Linked DNA regions of Homo sapiens: region 2 is linked to region 1. Evidence: fine-mapped expression QTL. Tissue or cell type: blood mononuclear cells. Region 1 holds a variant in brackets; the other region holds the start of a gene. All regions are shown on one strand. Distances are from middle to middle.

The links. PIP is the estimated chance that this variant, and not a neighbour inherited with it, causes the effect.
Region 2: AP2A1 starts here. The variant in region 1 is fine-mapped to the expression of AP2A1 in blood mononuclear cells (TOPMed, PIP above 0.99).

Annotation. Positions count from the first base shown.
Region 1 is chr19:49,860,330-49,868,708 of GRCh38, reverse strand. It overlaps PTOV1 (PTOV1 extended AT-hook containing adaptor protein), which reads right to left. Exons shown (of 12, transcript NM_001394010.1): 12 at 7,967-8,379. It overlaps PNKP (polynucleotide kinase 3'-phosphatase), which reads left to right and starts at 1,133. Exons shown (of 17, transcript NM_007254.4): 1 at 1,133-1,240; 2 at 1,492-1,655; 3 at 2,264-2,310; 4 at 3,283-3,582; 5 at 4,306-4,385; 6 at 4,473-4,530; 7 at 4,638-4,745; 8 at 4,949-5,020; 9 at 5,971-6,019; 10 at 6,101-6,171; 11 at 6,246-6,338; 12 at 6,428-6,524; 13 at 6,604-6,665; 14 at 6,828-6,937; 3 more. The coding sequence starts at 1,505. The coding sequence ends at 7,461. RefSeq lists silencers at 997-1,296, 1,367-1,736 and enhancers at 896-1,677, 1,678-2,460, 2,461-3,243. The variant C/T (reference allele first, on the strand shown) is at 4,611.
Region 2 is chr19:49,762,814-49,772,104 of GRCh38, reverse strand. AP2A1 (adaptor related protein complex 2 subunit alpha 1) reads right to left here and starts at 5,104. Exons shown (of 23, transcript NM_130787.3): 1 at 4,905-5,104. The coding sequence starts at 4,971. It overlaps TSKS (testis specific serine kinase substrate), which reads left to right and starts at 8,799. Exons shown (of 11, transcript NM_021733.2): 1 at 8,799-9,027. The coding sequence starts at 8,858. It also overlaps the pseudogene RNU6-841P. RefSeq lists enhancers at 1-700, 4,640-5,408, 5,462-6,439 and a silencer at 4,970-5,549.

The DNA of each region.
Region 1 (8,379 bases):
CGCCTGGCTTTGTGCCCATTTTATAGATATGAAGACACAGGTTCATGGGGTGGAGGAGAGCATCCCAGTCTTATGTGACCATGGAACCCAATCTTGAGGAGGTGAGTGTTGGAGACAGAGCCCACATATTCACCAGCAAAGCCAGGAACTCCAGCCGGGAGTCTTCTATTATAAAAGGACTGGAGCAACTGGGCTTGGTGCCTCACGCCTATAAGCCCAACACGCTGGGAGGCCAAGGCGGGAGGATCACATGACACCAGGAGGTCGAGATCAGCCTGGGCAGCACAGTGAGACCCCTTCTCCAAAGGGAAAAAAAAATGGCTGGAGGTTAGAAAGCAGGTGGAACCTCGTCCGAAATTAGGACTAGGTAAACGTAGTCCCACCAGACCACTACCGAAAGAATGCTAACACTAAATAAGACTTAAACGGATCTGAGCACTTTGGGAGGCCGAGGTGGGCGGATCACGAGATCAGGAGATCGAGACCGTCCTGGCTAACACGGTGAAACCCCGTCTCTACTCAAAATACAAAAAATTAGCTGGGCGTGGTGGCGGGCGCCTGTAGTCCCAGCTACTCGGGAGGCTGAGACAGGAGAATGGCGTCAACCCGGGAGGCGGAGCTTGCAGGTGAGCCGAGATCGCGCCACTGCACTCCAGCCTGGGCGACAGAGTGAGACTCCGTCTCAAAAAAAAAAAAAAAAAAAGACTTAAACAGGGCTCACTACCACCCATTTTTTAAAGCTTTTGTCACGTGTTAGCTCCTTTAATCGTCATGGTAACCCCACGAAGCGGAAACGATTATCCTTTTTATAGATGAGGAAACTAGAACATCGAGGGTGAAGCCAAAGAAGGACTTAGGGGCGCTGTCGGGGGCGGAGGTTTCCTCGACTGACAATGACCATCAGATGGGAAAAAAATCTTCCTCCCTGGGATGAAAATTAGAAGTCAAGGTGGAAAGAGGCAAATCTGCTAACGGAGGATCCAGTCCCCGCTACCGGCCTGAGCCTCGCGTTGCAGCAAGAGAGATGAAGGTCAGGGCTGCCGAGAGACCCTGGGGGCCGGGAGTCGGGGAAGGGGCGTGGCTGCTGTGGGAGGAGGCCAGGCCCCGCCCCCCACCCACGAGGGGACGAGTCATTTCCGTCCGCCGAGGAACCGACCGCCGCCGGCCGGGTTGCAGGCGGGGCACCTCGGGCAGGACCTCCCTGGTCGGAAGTGGCCGTGAGCCCAAGCCGCGGTCCCGGGTGAGTACGGGGCGGGGCGGAGGCATGTGCGAGGCTCTCTGCCTGTACGCTGGAAAGTGGGGATTGCAACTCGGGGAGGGATGGAGCACGCGTCGTCGCCTGGGAAACGGGTCGACCCGCGGAAGGCGAGCGGGTGGGACTTCCGGAGCAGTTAATGGTGGGGAAACTTTCTAGTGGATGTGGGAGGAGGCGGGACTTCCTGCAGCAAATTGGGGCTGTGCGCCGCTCAAGCCCGTTTACCTGCTCCCCAGGCCGGCACCCAGGATGGGCGAGGTGGAGGCCCCGGGCCGCTTGTGGCTCGAGAGCCCCCCTGGGGGAGCGCCCCCCATCTTCCTGCCCTCGGACGGGCAAGCCCTGGTCCTGGGCAGGGGACCCCTGACCCAGGTTACGGACCGGAAGTGCTCCAGAACTCAAGGTGAGCGGGGCCTGAGCTGGAGGGGGTGTGGCCTGCTGCAAAAGCGGGAACAATCCAGAGGGACGCTTGGCTGCTACGCGGGATTGCAGTGGTGCAGCCAGCCCCGAAGTCGGAAGGTGCTCTCTAGGGAGTACAGGAAGATAAAGTTTGTGCTTGATTTAGAATTAGCTAGATCCTTTGGGGGAGAGGGGATCGAGCCGATTTAGGGAGGATGTTCACTGCGCGGATGATGCTCAGGCCATCGGGAAATCCAGAAACAGGCGACGACCTTCGTCAAGAGAAAAATGATCCTGTGGAGAAAAGTAAATGTCGCTAGGTTGGGATGGATGGTAACAGGCCAAGCCCCGGACCTATATCTAGCCACATTTTTTGTCAAGGAGGAAACCAATTCTGTAGAGAAAAGTACCTCCCTGTCCCTTGCAAGGACCAGTGTCAGGCAATCCTAGTGCCACTATCTGGCTACTGCATGTCAAGGAGCCAATCCCATGTAGAAATAAACTGCCTCTTACTCCCTGGATGCTATAGCCTGAAGCAGGCCACACTCCCCAGAAATGAGGGACCCAATCACACAAGGATGCAAATCCTGACTCCACCCCTCCAATCCTCAGTGGAGCTGGTCGCAGATCCTGAGACCCGGACAGTGGCAGTGAAACAGGTATCAGTGCCTCTGCAAGGGCCAGCAAGGCCTGGGGATGGGATTTGGGGAGGAATTGCAAGCCGTCAGTGAAGGGGTACATTAGGAAAATCTGATTGGGGCCGGGCGTGGTGGCTCAAGCCTGTAATCCCAGCACTTTGGGAGGCCGAGGCGGGCGGATCGCTTGAACCCAGGAGTTCGAGACCAGCCTGAGCGACATGGTGAAACCTGTCTCTCTAAAAAATTAGCGGGAATGGTGGCGCGTCCTTGTAGTTCCTAATCGGGAGGCTGAAGCGGGAGGATCCCTTGAGCCCAGTAGGTCAAGGGTGTAGTGAGCAGTGATCACCACACTGTACTTCAGCCTGGGTGACAGAGCGAGAACCTGTCTCAAAAAAAGAAAAGAAAAAATATGGCTGGGAGAGAAGGGGATGTGTCCAGTAAAGAAAGAAGTGTTGCCTGTTTCAGTGGGGTGGGTACCTGTCCAAGACCTTAGAAATTGGACAAGGCGGCCAGGCGCGGTGGCTCACGCCTGTAATCCCAGCACTTTGGGAGGCTAGGCGGGCGGATCACCCGAGATCAGGAGTTTGTGACCAGCCTGGCCAACATGGCGAAACCCCATCTCTACTAAAAATACAAAAATTAGCGGGGCATGGTGGCGGGTGCCTGTAATCCCAGCTACTCGGGTAGCTGAGGCAGGAGAATCGTTTGAACCCAGGAGGCACAGGTTTCAATGAGCCAAGATTGCACCACTGCACTCCAGCCTGGGCGACAAAACAAGCCTATATCTCCAGGGGAAAAAAAAAAAAAAAAAAAAAAAAGATTCGGACAAGGCTGAAAACCTGTAACCGTTCCAAAGCCCGTTCCAAAGTGAAGAGGTGGGGCCTAAGGGTCTGATAGTGGTGGAGAAGGGCTGATTTTTCCGCTGGGTATTTGATTGGAGGAAGCTCCCGGTGGGGGCGGAGCCAGTCCCAGCTCCTCCCTCTCTTTCTGCAGCTGGGAGTTAACCCCTCAACTACCGGGACCCAGGAGTTGAAGCCGGGGTTGGAGGGCTCTCTGGGGGTGGGGGACACACTGTATTTGGTCAATGGCCTCCACCCACTGACCCTGCGCTGGGAAGAGACCCGCACACCAGAATCCCAGCCAGATACTCCGCCTGGCACCCCTCTGGTGTCCCAAGATGAGAAGAGAGATGCTGAGCTGCCGAAGAAGCGTATGCGGAAGTCAAACCCCGGCTGGGAGAACTTGGAGAAGTTGCTAGTGTTCACCGCAGCTGGGGTGAAACCCCAGGGCAAGGTGAGGGCCACGCCGAGGGCTGAGGGAGCCGCCACAGACTGGGACCCAATCCCACGTTTGTTGCGTGCTCTCAACTTTTTAGCCTCTACTTACTTTTCTGAGAAATGGGCCTAATGATAAATGCAGGGATCGTTGTAAGCAGTTAAGCAGTGGGGAGAATGATATATGTCAGCTCCTGCGTTACCCACAGTGACCACCCAGTAATCAGCAATGACCATGACTGTCTCAGTAGGAGCTATTACGATGAGGATTTTTTATGTCCAGAGAGACTTGAGTTCAAATGCTGTTACCACCACATTCTGAGTCCCATGTGTCTCATCTCTACGATGCTGAATCCATAAAAAAAGCACGTGGCATAGTTCCTGACATGCAGTTAGCACCCAAAGCTTTGCTCCTGCTTTTATTTTCACGGTTATTAGCCCACCGAGGTGGTGAAGGCCAGGGGAAGAAGGAGGCTGGGTAAGACATTAACCCCCATTTTAAAGACTGTAATCCTGGGGCTGGCGTCATAAGGAGTAACAGGAGACAGTAAGGTTAAGATGTCGGGCCCCACTCAGAGGCATCACGGATGCTTGAGATGGAGGTGCTCTGTGACTCGGTTTCCCCATCTGTGAGATGGCAGTGATAACACCCTGCCTGGCAGGGTTGGTGTGAGTCAGCCTGTGAGTGAGGAGGGTCAGAGGTATCACAGTGCTGCTGTTTGTCTTTCCTTGGTGACACCAGGTGGCTGGCTTTGATCTGGACGGGACGCTCATCACCACACGCTCTGGGAAGGTCTTTCCCACTGGCCCCAGTGACTGGAGGTGATAAGAGGCAAAACAAGGGAGTGAGTGAGGCCTGGAGTCCACCTCTGGCCCCGGGTCACCCCTGCCGCTTCATACCTGCCGTAGGATCTTGTACCCAGAGATTCCCCGTAAGCTCCGAGAGCTGGAAGCCGAGGGCTACAAGGTATGTGCAGCCGCCTGTCTGCATGGGCACGTGCACGTGGCGGTCCGACCGCAGTCAGACCAAGGCCCTGGTGAGCAGAG[C/T]GTCTGGTGACACCCTTTGCTCCCCAGCTGGTGATCTTCACCAACCAGATGAGCATCGGGCGCGGGAAGCTGCCAGCCGAGGAGTTCAAGGCCAAGGTGGAGGCTGTGGTGGAGAAGCTGGGGGTCCCCTTCCAGGTATGGCTGGAAGGGAGGCTGGGAGCTATGTGGGGGCACAGAGATCCAGAGCGAGGGCTTTAGACTCCAGGGTAAGCGGGGCGGAGGCCTCAGGCAGTGTGATGCTGATAGGAACCCATCATCAGCTACAAATTCTGGGCTGGGGTGGCATCCAGTAGGTGCTTGAGGGGGAGCTAAAGCTGGTGGCCCCCTCCCATCCACAGGTGCTGGTGGCCACGCACGCAGGCTTGTACCGGAAGCCGGTGACGGGCATGTGGGACCATCTGCAGGAGCAGGTGAGTCTTGCAGCCTGCCCGGCCCCCCTCCTTTTCCTCACTCCAGCCCCTCACTCCTGGGCTCCCCGGCCTCCGGTTGGGGCCTCCTTACTCCTCTGTCCTCTCTCGCTCCCTCCTTCTGTTTTTTGCTGTGACATCTTAGATGTTGGTTTACGAGACCAGTGCTTTCAGACTTTCTACATCAGAGTAGTAGGGAAGCTGTTCATTCCTTCGTTCATTCGTTTGTGTGTGCATTTGTTCTGAAGTTTAGCGCATTCTTGAGCTGAAGGTATCAGTGAGCGGGACGGCCTGCTCCAGCAGGGCCCTCACGGCGAGGGCGGTGACTCTAGGCGGATGGGCAGACTGGCGTGTAAAACAGCAGGAGGGAGGGAGCTGGAGAAAGCAGGCATCACCCGTGGTGGGCAGGGATGGCCTCTGAGGAGGTGACATCAGAGGAAAAGGCCTAAGGCAGGGAAAGGAGGGAGCCAGGTGGACACCTGGGGAAAGCGGTCCCCCCCCTTGTGGGAGTGACAGCAAGTGCAAAGGCCCTGAGGCAGTCCCTAGCCTGGGCTAGTTAGGGACAGCGAGGCCCATGCGGCTGGCTCTAAGCGAGGGAGGGGAGAGGGCAGGGCCACAGGGAGGGCCCCGCTTTTGCCCTGAGGGAGGGGGAACCTGGGAGGCGCCGGCACGCCGGAGGCTGGAGCTGTAGCAGGGTGGGTGCCCTCCGGTGGCCGCGTGGGGAACGGGAGGAGGTGAAGTCGGGAGACCTGGAGGGAGGGGGCTGTGTGGAGAGACCACGGAGGGGGGAGGGGGCCAGGAGCACGGTGCAAAGTGGCTGGAGAGTGAGGACATGAAAGGTCGGGGGATGATTCCTGATGTGGGGCACAGACCAGGCGAAGCAGCCCCAGGGACCCGCTACCGCTGCGGGGGGACATTTGTGGGAAGGGCCTCCTCACTACCGTCTCCCGTAGGCCAACGACGGCACGCCCATATCCATCGGGGACAGCATCTTTGTGGGAGGTAAGGGCCTGGAGGCTGCTGAGGGTGGGCTGGGACGCCTCCCTCCGAGCTGGTGGGAACGGGGTGTCCCGTGTGTTCCAGACGCAGCCGGACGCCCGGCCAACTGGGCCCCGGGGCGGAAGAAGAAAGACTTCTCCTGCGCCGATCGCCTGGTGAGGCCCCTGCCCCCTGCCCCGCGCCCGAGCCCGACCCTGGCCTGTGTCTGATGTTCGTCCTCAACCCCTAGTTTGCCCTCAACCTTGGCCTGCCCTTCGCCACGCCTGAGGAGTTCTTTCTCAAGTGGCCAGCAGCCGGCTTCGAGCTCCCAGCCTTTGATCCGGTGAGGCCCTGGGGCGGGGGTGGGGGTGGGGATGGGAGGGCTCCCGGGGATGGGGACGGCATCTCACGCGTGTCCCCCGCCCCTCGCAGAGGACTGTCTCCCGCTCAGGGCCTCTCTGCCTCCCCGAGTCCAGGGCCCTCCTGAGCGCCAGCCCGGAGGTGGTTGTCGCAGTGGGATTCCCTGGGGGTAAGTGTCCTGTTCCTGTGCGCGTGCCCTGAGCCCCGCCTGGGTCCTAGGCCACCCACCGACACTGCCCCCCACACAGCCGGGAAGTCCACCTTTCTCAAGAAGCACCTCGTGTCGGCCGGATATGTCCACGTGAACAGGGTATGACCAGGCTTTTGCCGCCCCAAATCTATTATAAAGTTCCCATCTCCACCTCTCAACTGGTTTGGGGCGGCTTTCCTCCATCATTGCCTCCCCGTCCCCGCTCGGGGTCTTCTCTCCCCCTGGGTCTGCCGATCTGTTTGTGACCTCTCGTGTCCCCAGGACACGCTAGGCTCCTGGCAGCGCTGTGTGACCACGTGTGAGACAGCCCTGAAGCAAGGGAAACGGGTCGCCATCGACAACACAAACCCAGACGCCGCGAGCCGCGCCAGGTAGCGTGACCGCGGGGCCGTAGGTGGCCTGCGGCGGGGTGGGCGGGGCCTGCACATCCAGCTCCTTCCCCCACAGGTACGTCCAGTGTGCCCGAGCCGCGGGCGTCCCCTGCCGCTGCTTCCTCTTCACCGCCACTCTGGAGCAGGCGCGCCACAACAACCGGGTGAGCCCGCTCAGCCCGGACACCCCCCGGGCTGCACCCCCTGACCCCCCTCCTCCCCTGACCCCTGGGCCTGCCGCCCCTCTGATGTTCCCCACAGTTTCGAGAGATGACGGACTCCTCTCATATCCCCGTGTCAGACATGGTCATGTATGGCTACAGGTACTGTTGGGGATAGCAGGGGGCAGGGGCACTGGCTGGGCCACATGATCCAGGCTGTCCCTCACTGTTCCCACCACTGCCAGGAAGCAGTTCGAGGCCCCAACGCTGGCTGAAGGCTTCTCTGCCATCCTGGAGATCCCGTTCCGGCTATGGGTGGAGCCGAGGCTGGGGCGGCTGTACTGCCAGTTCTCCGAGGGCTGAGCCCCGCCCAGCTCCCCTCCACAATAAACGCTGTTTCTCCTTGAGCTTGGCCGGCATTTTGCTGGAAGGAGGGTGGTCCCCACGGGGGAGGGGCTCCAGGCCTGCCAGTTTCTTACATGGAGGAGGCTTTAAGGACATTTTCAGGTAACAAAAGGTGGGGCCCTACCGAGGGGAGTCCAGCTGGGACCTGGCATGAGCACTTTAGACATTAGCCGGGGAACACACAGGGAGGGCGCTGTGTGGCCCCCCGAGAGCCAGCTGGTGAGCCCACGAGCCTCAACCGAGGGGCTGGCTCAAGGCCAGGTGTGACCCCTGAGGACAAAATCCAGCTCAGGTTCTGTGACACTGAACTTGAACCCAAGGCCTGCGGGTCTGGAGATTCGGGGGGGAAGAGGGTGTGGACAGCCGAGAGCCAGACCCAGTGAGTTCCCGGGCTGTCCAGCCTGCTGGGCCACCTTAGAGCTAGGGGGCTGCAAGGCATCGGGCAGTGAGCAGAGAAGGCAGGCAGGTTTTTAAAAGGCTTTATTGGGGAAACGTAGAGGGGTGGGGACCGTCCTTGGAGGCCTCAGGACACCATCCTCCATGTTGCTGGGCAGTTGAAGTCCCCAGGGGCCCCTGCTCAGAAGCGTGTCACCTGGGGGCAGGGGTGCAGTGGGGGCTGCTGGCCACAGGCTCCCAAGCACTGACCCCACATCCCTGTGAGCAGAGGCCTGGCCCCACCCAGGCCTGGATACCACCTCCCATGGCCCTGAGGCTGGGCTGCAGTTTCCCGACAGCCTAGGACCGCTGGGACTGCTGCCTCTCCCTCTGCTCTGCTCTCCCCAAGGCCAAGGTCGCCCTGCTTCTTTCCCAACCCCACCCCCCCCACATGCCCCAGGGTCCCTCCTGTACATGACAGGGTCACCACTCACCAGTCTC
Region 2 (9,291 bases), 97 kb after region 1:
GCCGGGATGACAGAGCCAGACTCTGTCAAAAAAAAGAAAGAGAGACAGGGTCTTGCTATGTTGCCAAGGCTGGTCTCAAATTCCTGGCCTCAAGCAATCCTTCTGCCTCCACCTCCTGAGTAGCTGGGACTAGATAGAGATGCCCGCCATGGCGTCCGGAAGTCAGGACCTTTGCACTTGCCCCGCCTCTGCCTTCACAGCTCTTCTCACTGCCCTCAGCCTAGGTAACTCCCCTACTTCCTGCCCACACAGCTCCAAAGGTCTCTTGTGAAGCAAAGCCAGGCCGCAGCTCGCTGACCACACAGAATCCCCATTCTCTCAACACCATGGCCCTCTTCCTCACTGGGCTTAGGACAGCTGCAAATTCTTTCCCCATTTAAAAAAAAATCGAGATACGGCCAGGCGCGGTGGCTCACACCTGTAATCTCAGCATTTTGTGAGGCTGAAGCAGGCAGATCACTCGAGATCAGGAGTTCGAGACCAGCCTGGCCAACATGGTGAAACCCTGTCTCTACTAAAAATACAAAAATCAGCGGGGCATAGTGGCGGGCGCCTATAATCCCAGCTACTCGGGAGGCTGAGGCAGGAGAATCGCTTGAACCTGGGAAATGGAGGGTGCAGTGAGCCAAGATCGCGCCATTTTTGTGACTGTCACAAAAAAAAAGAGATACAATTCACATACCATAAAATTGACCCTTTTACAGTGAACAATTCAGCGTTCTTTAGTACATTCATGATGTTGTGCAACCATTACTACTATCGAATTCCAGGACCTTTCTTTTTTTTTTTTTTTTTTTTTTTAAGAGATGAGGTTTCACTATGTGGCCCGGGCTGGATTCGAACTCCTGGGTTCAAATGATCCTCCTACCTCAGTCTCCCAAGTAGCTGGGACTACAAGCATGTGCCGTGTCCAGCTGTAGGCTTTTTCATGAACCCAAAAGAAGCTCTGAATGCTGCCGGGCATGGTAGCTCACACCTGTAATCCTAGCACTTTGGAAGGCTGGGGTAGTGGATCACCTGAGGCCAGGAGTTCGAGACCATCCTGACCAACATGTAAAAACCCCGTCTCTACTAAAAGTACAAAAATTAGCCAGGTGTGGTGGCACACGCCTGTAATCCCAGCTACTCAGGAAGCTGAGGCAGGAGAATCGCCTGAACTTGGGAGGCAGAGGTTGCAGTAAGCCGAGATCACCCCATTGCACTCCAGCCTGGGCGACAGAGTGAGACTCCATCTCAAAAAATAAAAAAAGAACCTATGCATTCATGAGCAGTCACTCCCCATCCCACCAGCCCCTACTCTAGGCAACCACTAATCTTTCTGTCTCCATGGATCTGCCTATTCAAGATACTCTATCAACATGGAATCATACAACACGTGGCCTCCTGTGTCTGGCTTCTTTCACTTGGTGTCATGTTTTCAAGGTCCATCCCTGTGGCAGCATGTAGCAGGACGTCATTATTTTTTAAGGCCCGGTAATATTCCACTACATAGACCACACTTTATTTCTCAGTTGATGGGCATTTGGCCCGTTTCTGTTTTCCGGCTATCATGAATAATGTTGCAGTGAACATCCGTGTCCAGGTATTAGTGTGAAGGACTACTGCAATTTGTATGTTGCACCTTCTCCCCCACAGGGCTGGGAGCTTCATGGAGGGGGTGGACAAGTCTGTCCTGTTCACCAGTGTCCCCAGCATTCAGCACAATTCTTGAGACATACCAGCCGTTCAACATACGCTTGCTAAGAAAAGGCTCCTGATTCTCCAGCCCTAATTCCTGTGGCTAAATTACTACCAGTGCCCCAAGCCTGCATCTCCCCTCTGTCCTCTGGCTCGTCTCTGGGGTCCTGCAGTGACGGGACGATCTCTTTCCTTCCCCAACCCCCATCATCAAATCCCTTTGCAAATCCTGACAGTTTTTCCTTCAAGTTGTATCCCAGGCTGGGTGCAGTGGCTCACGCTTATAATGCCAGCACTTTGGGAGGCCAAGGCGGGCAGATCACTTGAGGTTGGGAGTTCGAGACCAGCCTGGCCAACATGGGGAAACCCTGCGTCTACTAAAAATACAAAAATTAGCCAAGCGTGGTGGCGGGTGCCTGTAATCCCAGCTACCGGGGAGGCTGAGGCACGAGAATTGCTTGAACCTGGGAGGCGGAGGTTGCAGTGAGGTATGATCGTGCCACTGCACTCCAACCTGGGCAACAGAGACTGTCTCGGAAAAAAAAATGTATCACCAACCCATTTCTCACCAGTCCCTTCTCACCCTGTTAAGCCAGCACCATCTCTCACCCAGAGGCCTGCAACACCCTCCTAATTTGGTTCCCTGCTTCCATGGCTACCTCTAGAATCTGTTCTCACAGCAGCCAGAGGAATTATCTTAAAACATCAATCGGTCACATCCCTCCCCTGCTCAAAATATTCTCATGCAGACAAAGGCCAAAGTGCTCACCATGGCCCAGAAAGCCTTTCCCGATCCTGTTCCCACTCCCCTCCACACCCGCCCTCTCTCCCCTTCACTCCCACAGCTTCAGCCACACTGACCTTCTCCCTCTCGCTCGAACACATGTCAAGCATGCCGCAACCTCAGGACCTCTGAATGCACCTCCCTGTGCCAGGACCCCTTTCCTCCAAAATCCACAGGGCTTGCTCCACTCAGATATGACTTCCTCCACGAGGCCTACTGAGTACCCTCTCCATCCTAGTCCCTCTCCCGACCATTTCCTCCTTATTTTTCTTCACAGAACCAGTCAGGTCCTGAGGTTGTATATCAGGGTGTTCCCTGTGCATATGTTCTGTCTTCCTCGGGGAAGGGAGCTCCCAAGGACAGGAGTTTCTTTTTCTTTTTTTTTATTTTTGGAGACGGAGTTTCACTCTTGTTGCCCAGCCTGGAGTGCAATGGTGTGAATCTCGGCTCATTGCAACCTCTGCCTCCCGGGTTCAAGCGATTCTCCTGCCTCAGCCTCCTGAGTAGCTGGGATTACAGGCACCCACCACCACACCTGGCTAATTTTTGTATTTTTAGTAGAGATGGAGTTTCACCATGTTGGCCAGGTTGGTCTTGAACTCCTGACCTCAGGTGATCCGCCTACCTCGGCCCCCCAAAGTGCTGGGATGACAGGCATGAGCCACCATGACCAGCAAGAACAGGAATTTCTGTTCACTATTGTCACCCCAGTACCTAGAACAGGGCCTGGACAACACTAGAGCAATCAAAAAGTATTTGTCAAGTGAATGAATGAATAAATGAGCCTTCAGAGGCAAGACACTGTTATGAATGAAGTTTGCAGACAAGAAAACGTCCTGAAAGAGGTTAAACAACTCGTGGAGGGTCACATCCCTGGTGGGTAACAGAGGCAGCCCCCGTCTGCTAACAGTGGCTCCCAGCTCCTCCACAACCCCCATAGCCCCGCCCCTTATCATAACAAGTGATCATTTCTCCTCCAACTGATACTCAACTGTTTCCACCCTCCTGTTCCCTGAGCACCTATTACATGCCAGATCCTTCCATAACAGTTAAATTCTAAAACAACAACCATCACTGGGTACTTTACAGGGCTGCTGTTCAGAGCCAACGGAGTAAAAACAATAGCCAAGTTCCATCTGGGGCCTGGAACGAGTGAAAGGCCTGAGGGGCATTGTCACAAGCCCCTCAGGAAGATACTATCAGCAGTCTCTCTTGACAGATGAGGAAACCGAGAGGTGAAGTCCCTCATTCAAGGTCACACAGCCAGGGAGTGGCAGTGCTCAAACGCAAACCCAAGTCTGGCTGACCCCAGAGCCCATGCGGATGCAGCCTCTGAAGACTCCTGGCAGCTCCAATCACCCACAGCCATTCCCAGGAGTTGAGAGCTGACTTGCCGCCAGGATTCCCATCGTCACGACAACTCTTCCTGGCAGGGACCACCGTCCCCATATTACTGTGGTCAAATAGAAAAGGGCTCAGATCCCTGCCTGTCCTGCTGCCTGACCCCTGACCTCTCTCTGGGATTAGACTTCCCCTATTCCCAGCTTTCCAGATATCTACCCCTCAAGCACTTCAGAACCCAACGCCTTCCTTGAGGTCTGGGCGCTCCTTCTTCTACCCTTTCCCCAATCCCCTACTCTAATGTCCTCTTCTTTCCTGGCCCCCCGTTCCCTGTCACAGGTTCTCCCAAGACCTTACACCGACAGCTCTTTTCCTCTGTGTTCCTTGGGTCCCTCCTTTCCCCTCAGCTGCCCCTCTAGCCCCCTCCACACTGCCTTCCATGTCTTCTAGGCAATCTCCCACCCTGAAGCCCCTCTATCCTTCACCAGGGTGTCCTTATAGTCTCCCCGTCCCATCATCTCCCTGCCCCAAACTCATGGACTTTCAACCACTCTCAGGCCTCCTCTATACCACTGGCCAGGAGCCTCGGTGACCTATCTAACCCCTTTCCCCTGTATGACACCCCCTATCCCAGGTCCTCAAGCCCTGCTTCATTAGGCTTCCGGCATTCCACTTCCTCCAGGTCCCCTCTGGCCTCTTCCCATTCCATCGCTCCACAGGGCACCCCCGCCATACACTTCTTTCACTTCTTCTCTACATTGGGAATCCCTCTAACCCCATCGTTTGTAAGATCCCCCAGCTTTTCAGTCTTTCCCAGGGGACACCTCTATGCTCCCATCCCCGGGACCTCACTGGCTTCCTCCCCTTTCAAGCCCTCCCGGACCCCTCTAGCTACTCCGTGTCGTCACCTCAAGAGGCACTCTATGACACCCCAAGCCCCTACGTGCCCCCCACTCTAAAGTTCTTCCTGGGGCCCATCTATGCTGTCCCTATACGGCCGCAGAGGCTTTTGATCCCCCGGGTCCCTCTGTGATCCCCAAACCCCTCAATTTCACGCTCCCCCCTCCCCCGCGTCTCCAGTGTCCCCCGGCCGCGCGCTCACAGTTCCGGATGTCGGAGATGAACACCGCGAGCCCCCGCATCCCATCGCCCTTGGACACGGCCGGCATGATGGCGGTGGTGTCGGCTCCAGGCCTGGCCGGACAGGGCACAGAGCAGCGGGGGCTGGCAAGCGGGGACCGGGCGGAAAGGACCCCAGGCAGCGCCAAGGAGCCGAGCCGGCCGCGGGGAGGGCTGGCTGGCGGGCGGGCGGGCGGGCTGGCAGGCCGTGGCACCGCCCCCTGCCCCTCCCCTCCGCCCGCGGTCCGGAGCTCTGAGCCGCCCACTGGCTTGAGCTCCTGCCGCTCACAGGCGGGTTTCTCCCCCACTTCCTCTCTCATTGGCCGCCAAGCAAAGGCACGACGCTACGATTGGCCCAGTGTTCCGCTATTTCCGTTTGGGAGCTGGGGAGGGGGGGGAGGAGGCGTTGCCCGAGAGACGGGCGGGGTTCGATTGCGTATCATGGGCCCGCCCCCTCCGCGCGGCCAGGTCAAACACTGATTGGATCTAGCGGCTCTCCAAGGAGGAAGGGAGGGACGTGAAGGAAGGCGGGGAACGGTCCTAGGAGGCGGGACTTAGGTTGACTGGGACCAATGAACGGGTAGACCTGCCCCGCAGGCGTCGCGGATTGGCGAGATCTGTCCTACTTCAGCCCTCCATTGGGCGGCTGTGGGGCGGGCGGAAGGCGAAGATCAGTAGAGAAGGAAAGAGGGGAGGGTGTCACTCCGCTCGGCTGGGATAGGTGGAGCGACGCCTGCAATTCCCTGCTGCAGAGAAGGGGTTGGGCGAGGCAAGAGAGCGTGCGGTGTTTACTGCGCAAGCGTCTCCGTGTTCCCTTTCTCCCTCCACTGTCACCCCCGACTGCTGAAATCCTCTTCTAGGAAGCCTTCCTCCCCTCCCCCCTTCTCTGCAGCCAACGTGTCGGGACTTGAGTTGTCAGGAGACCTAGAATCTCAGAGTGAAAAACAGTAATTCAAGGCTAGTCCCATTAAGCAGAAGTTAAAACTTAGGTCGAGAGGGCGAATGACTTGCCCAGGGCCACACAGCTTGGAAGTGAAAAAGCAGAAATAAACGTAAACCGTATCTTGGCTTACTTTTCAATATATGTTGCCTTTTTTTTTTTGTCCAACCGCAGTGTCTCTCGGGCAGCCTCCATTGTAGCAGATATCAAACCAAAATTGATTGTCTCCTCCAGACTGGGAACTCCTTCTGGGCAAGAATGGGACCTGGCCTTGAACAGTTTCAACAACATTTGTTAAAAGAAGAAATAGGTGAATCTGCTTTGGCCCAGCCCCAGCCTCCATCCCCAACCCCCAGCTCCCCAGAGACTCTTTGGTAAACTGGCTTTGGGGAAGGCAAAACGGCCAGAACTCCCAACGCCCCAGGAGATTGAGAAATTTGGGACAAAGGGAACTGGAAGAGTCCATTTCTGTCACCTGTAGGAACAAAACTCCACCCCATCAGCCTTTTCTAATCTCAGAAGCCAAGAATTCCTGGAATGAGCCTTGGGGGTGTGTTCTGGACCTTTGGAATGGCCATTCTGAATCCTGGGAGATGGAAAGGAGGTTGAGAAGAGCCCACCTTCCAGGCTCAATGGATGCGTCCATTTGGGTTTCCAGGAATGGGGCCTGGGAAAGTCCATTTTGGATTCCAGGAGGACAGAAATTGCTCAGCTGTTTTAGTCACAGGGAGAGTCCATTTCTAATATGGGAGGGGGGTGCTGTTTGCCCCTGAAGAACATAAAGCAGCCCCATTAAACACAAGAAAAATTATTAATCCCAGGACTTGAAGTTCTTTTTTTTTTTTTTTGAGATGGAGTCTCGCTCTGTCGCCCAGGCTGGGGTGCAGTGGCGCGATCTCAGCTCACTGCAACCTCCGCCTCCCGGGTTCACGCCATTCTCCTGCCTCAGCCTCCCAAGTAGCTGGGACTACAGGCGCACGCCACCATGCCTGGCTAATTTTTTGTGTTTTTAGTAGAGACGGGGTTTCACCGTGTTAGCCAGGATGGTCTCGATCTCCTGACCTTGTGATCCGCCCACCTCGGCCTCCCAAAGTGCTGGAATTACAGGCGTGAGCCACTGCGCCCGGCCTTTTTTTTTTTTCTTTTTTTTGAGACAGAGTCTCTCTCTGTCCCCCAGGCTGGAGTTCAGTGACTCAATCTCGGCTCACTGTAACCTCTTCCTCCCGAGTTAAAGCGATTTTCCTGCCTCAGCCTCCTAAGTAGCTGGGATTACAGGCACCCGTCATCATGCTCGCCTAATTTTTGTATTTTTGTAGAGACAGTGTTTCACTATGTTGGCCAGGCTGGTCTTGAACTCCTAACCTCAGGTGATCCGCCCGCCTCGGCCTCCCAAAGTGCTGGGATTACAGGTGTGAGACACCGCGCCCAGCCAGGAGTTCTTTATTATAGAAAGATTAAGTGTTCCAAGAACTGGAGTCCATTCATGACCAGGAAGAAGTACTTTCTCCCTGGGGATAACAGCATTTAAAATGTCTATTAGCAGTGATGTTTGAACTAGTCTTTTTGAGAAGTGTGAAGAGAACAGGAAAAGTCTGTCCCTAAATAGCAGGGCAGTGCTCGCTTCGACAGCACATGTATTAACATTGGAACGATACAGAGAAGATTAGCATGGGCCCTGCGCAAAGACCACATGCAAATTTGTGACATGTTCCATATATTTTTTAAATACTTTGGGCGGGCGGGGCGCAGTGGCTCACACCTGTAATTCCAATGCTTTGGGAGGCTGAAGTGGGCAGATCACGAGGTCAGGAGTTGGAGACTAGCCTAGCCAACACAGTGAAACCCTGTCTCTACTAAAAATACAAAAAAAAAATTAGATGGGTGTGGTGGCAGGTACCTGTAGTCCCAGCTACTCAGGAGGCTGAGGCAGGAGAATCGCTTGAAACTGGGAGGTAGAGGTTGCAATGAGCCAAGATCACGCCACTGCACTCCAGCCTGGGTGTCAGAGCGAGACTCCATCTAAAAAAAAAAAAAAAAAATTATAGCGGAGCATGGTGGCTCATGTCTGTAATCCCACACTTTGGGAGGCTAAGGCGGGTGGACCATTTGAGGTCGGGAGTTTGAGACCAACTTGGCCAACATGGTGAAACCCGTCTCTACTAAAAATACAAAAATTAGCCGGACATTGTGGCCAGCGCCTGTAGTCCCAGCTACTGGGGAGGCTGAGGCAGGAGAATCGGTTGAACCCCGGGAGGTGGAGGTTGCAATGAGCTGAGATCGCGCCACTGAACTCCAGCCTCCATGACAGAGAGAGACTCTGTCTCAAAAAAAATAAAAAGTATTAAAGAAAATAATAAATAAATAAACGGGGGAGGGGGATACCACCCTCTGTCCTGCCCCAACTCTCTACCTTCCTCTCCTCCCTCACCTTCTACCCTGACCCCGAGGCCCACCGCACCTAGCTTTCTTTTGTTGATCTACCTGTATATTGCCTTTCCCCCGACCCCGACGCCCCATAGAATATGAGACCCTCCAGGTCAGGGTCTGGATCTCAGCCCTCTTCGACCACAGTCTCTCAAACCCCAGCCAATTGTCAAATCCAGGAAGCTACATGAAGAATCAAGAACAAGTGCACAGGGCTGTGTGACCCCACGCTTAGTCTCAGGGAGAGGGAAGTTGGACCTCTCCCAAGAATCCGTGGGCCGACCCATTGTTAAGTTACAGGCTAGCATGAATCCATCCACTGGAGCTCTGAAGACGGGGGGCACATTGGGCATGTAACTAGAATCCTGAACAGGAGGAGTCCACTGAGAACCCTAGGGGAATGACCTGGGCCAGCATCTCTCCCTACCCTGTGCCCCCCACTCACTGGGGCCCAGTGGTTGGGTCCTTTGTGAGGCAGGCTGAGGGGACAGTGGATCCTGAGGGTCTGTGGTCACAGTAGGTAGGAAGTCTCAGAGGAAGGAGCCCCTCCCTGGGAGCCAGACCCCCACACCATGGCGAGCGTGGTGGTGAAGACGATCTGGCAGTCCAAAGAGATCCATGAGGCCGGGGACACCCCCACGGGGGTGGAGAGCTGCTCCCAGCTAGTCCCAGAGGCTCCCCGGAGGGTGACCAGCCGGGCCAAGGGGATCCCGAAGAAAAAGAAGGCCGTGTCGTTCCACGGGTGGGTTTGTTGCACACTGTCAGGGATGGTTCTAATGCCCAGCACTACCTCCAACAGAGCAGGAGTCCGACTGTGGGTGCTAGAGGAAGGGGAGGGGGAAAAGCCAGCAGGTCGGGGGCAGGAAAGAGGGCAGCAGTGAAGAGACATCAAGTCACAGGGAGGTAGAGAGGAAGAAGGTAATGGGGATGGATGGAGGGAGGAAGAAGGTAATGGGGATGGATGGAGAGAGGAAAAAGCCAGTGGGGAGGGAAGAAGGAGAAGGGA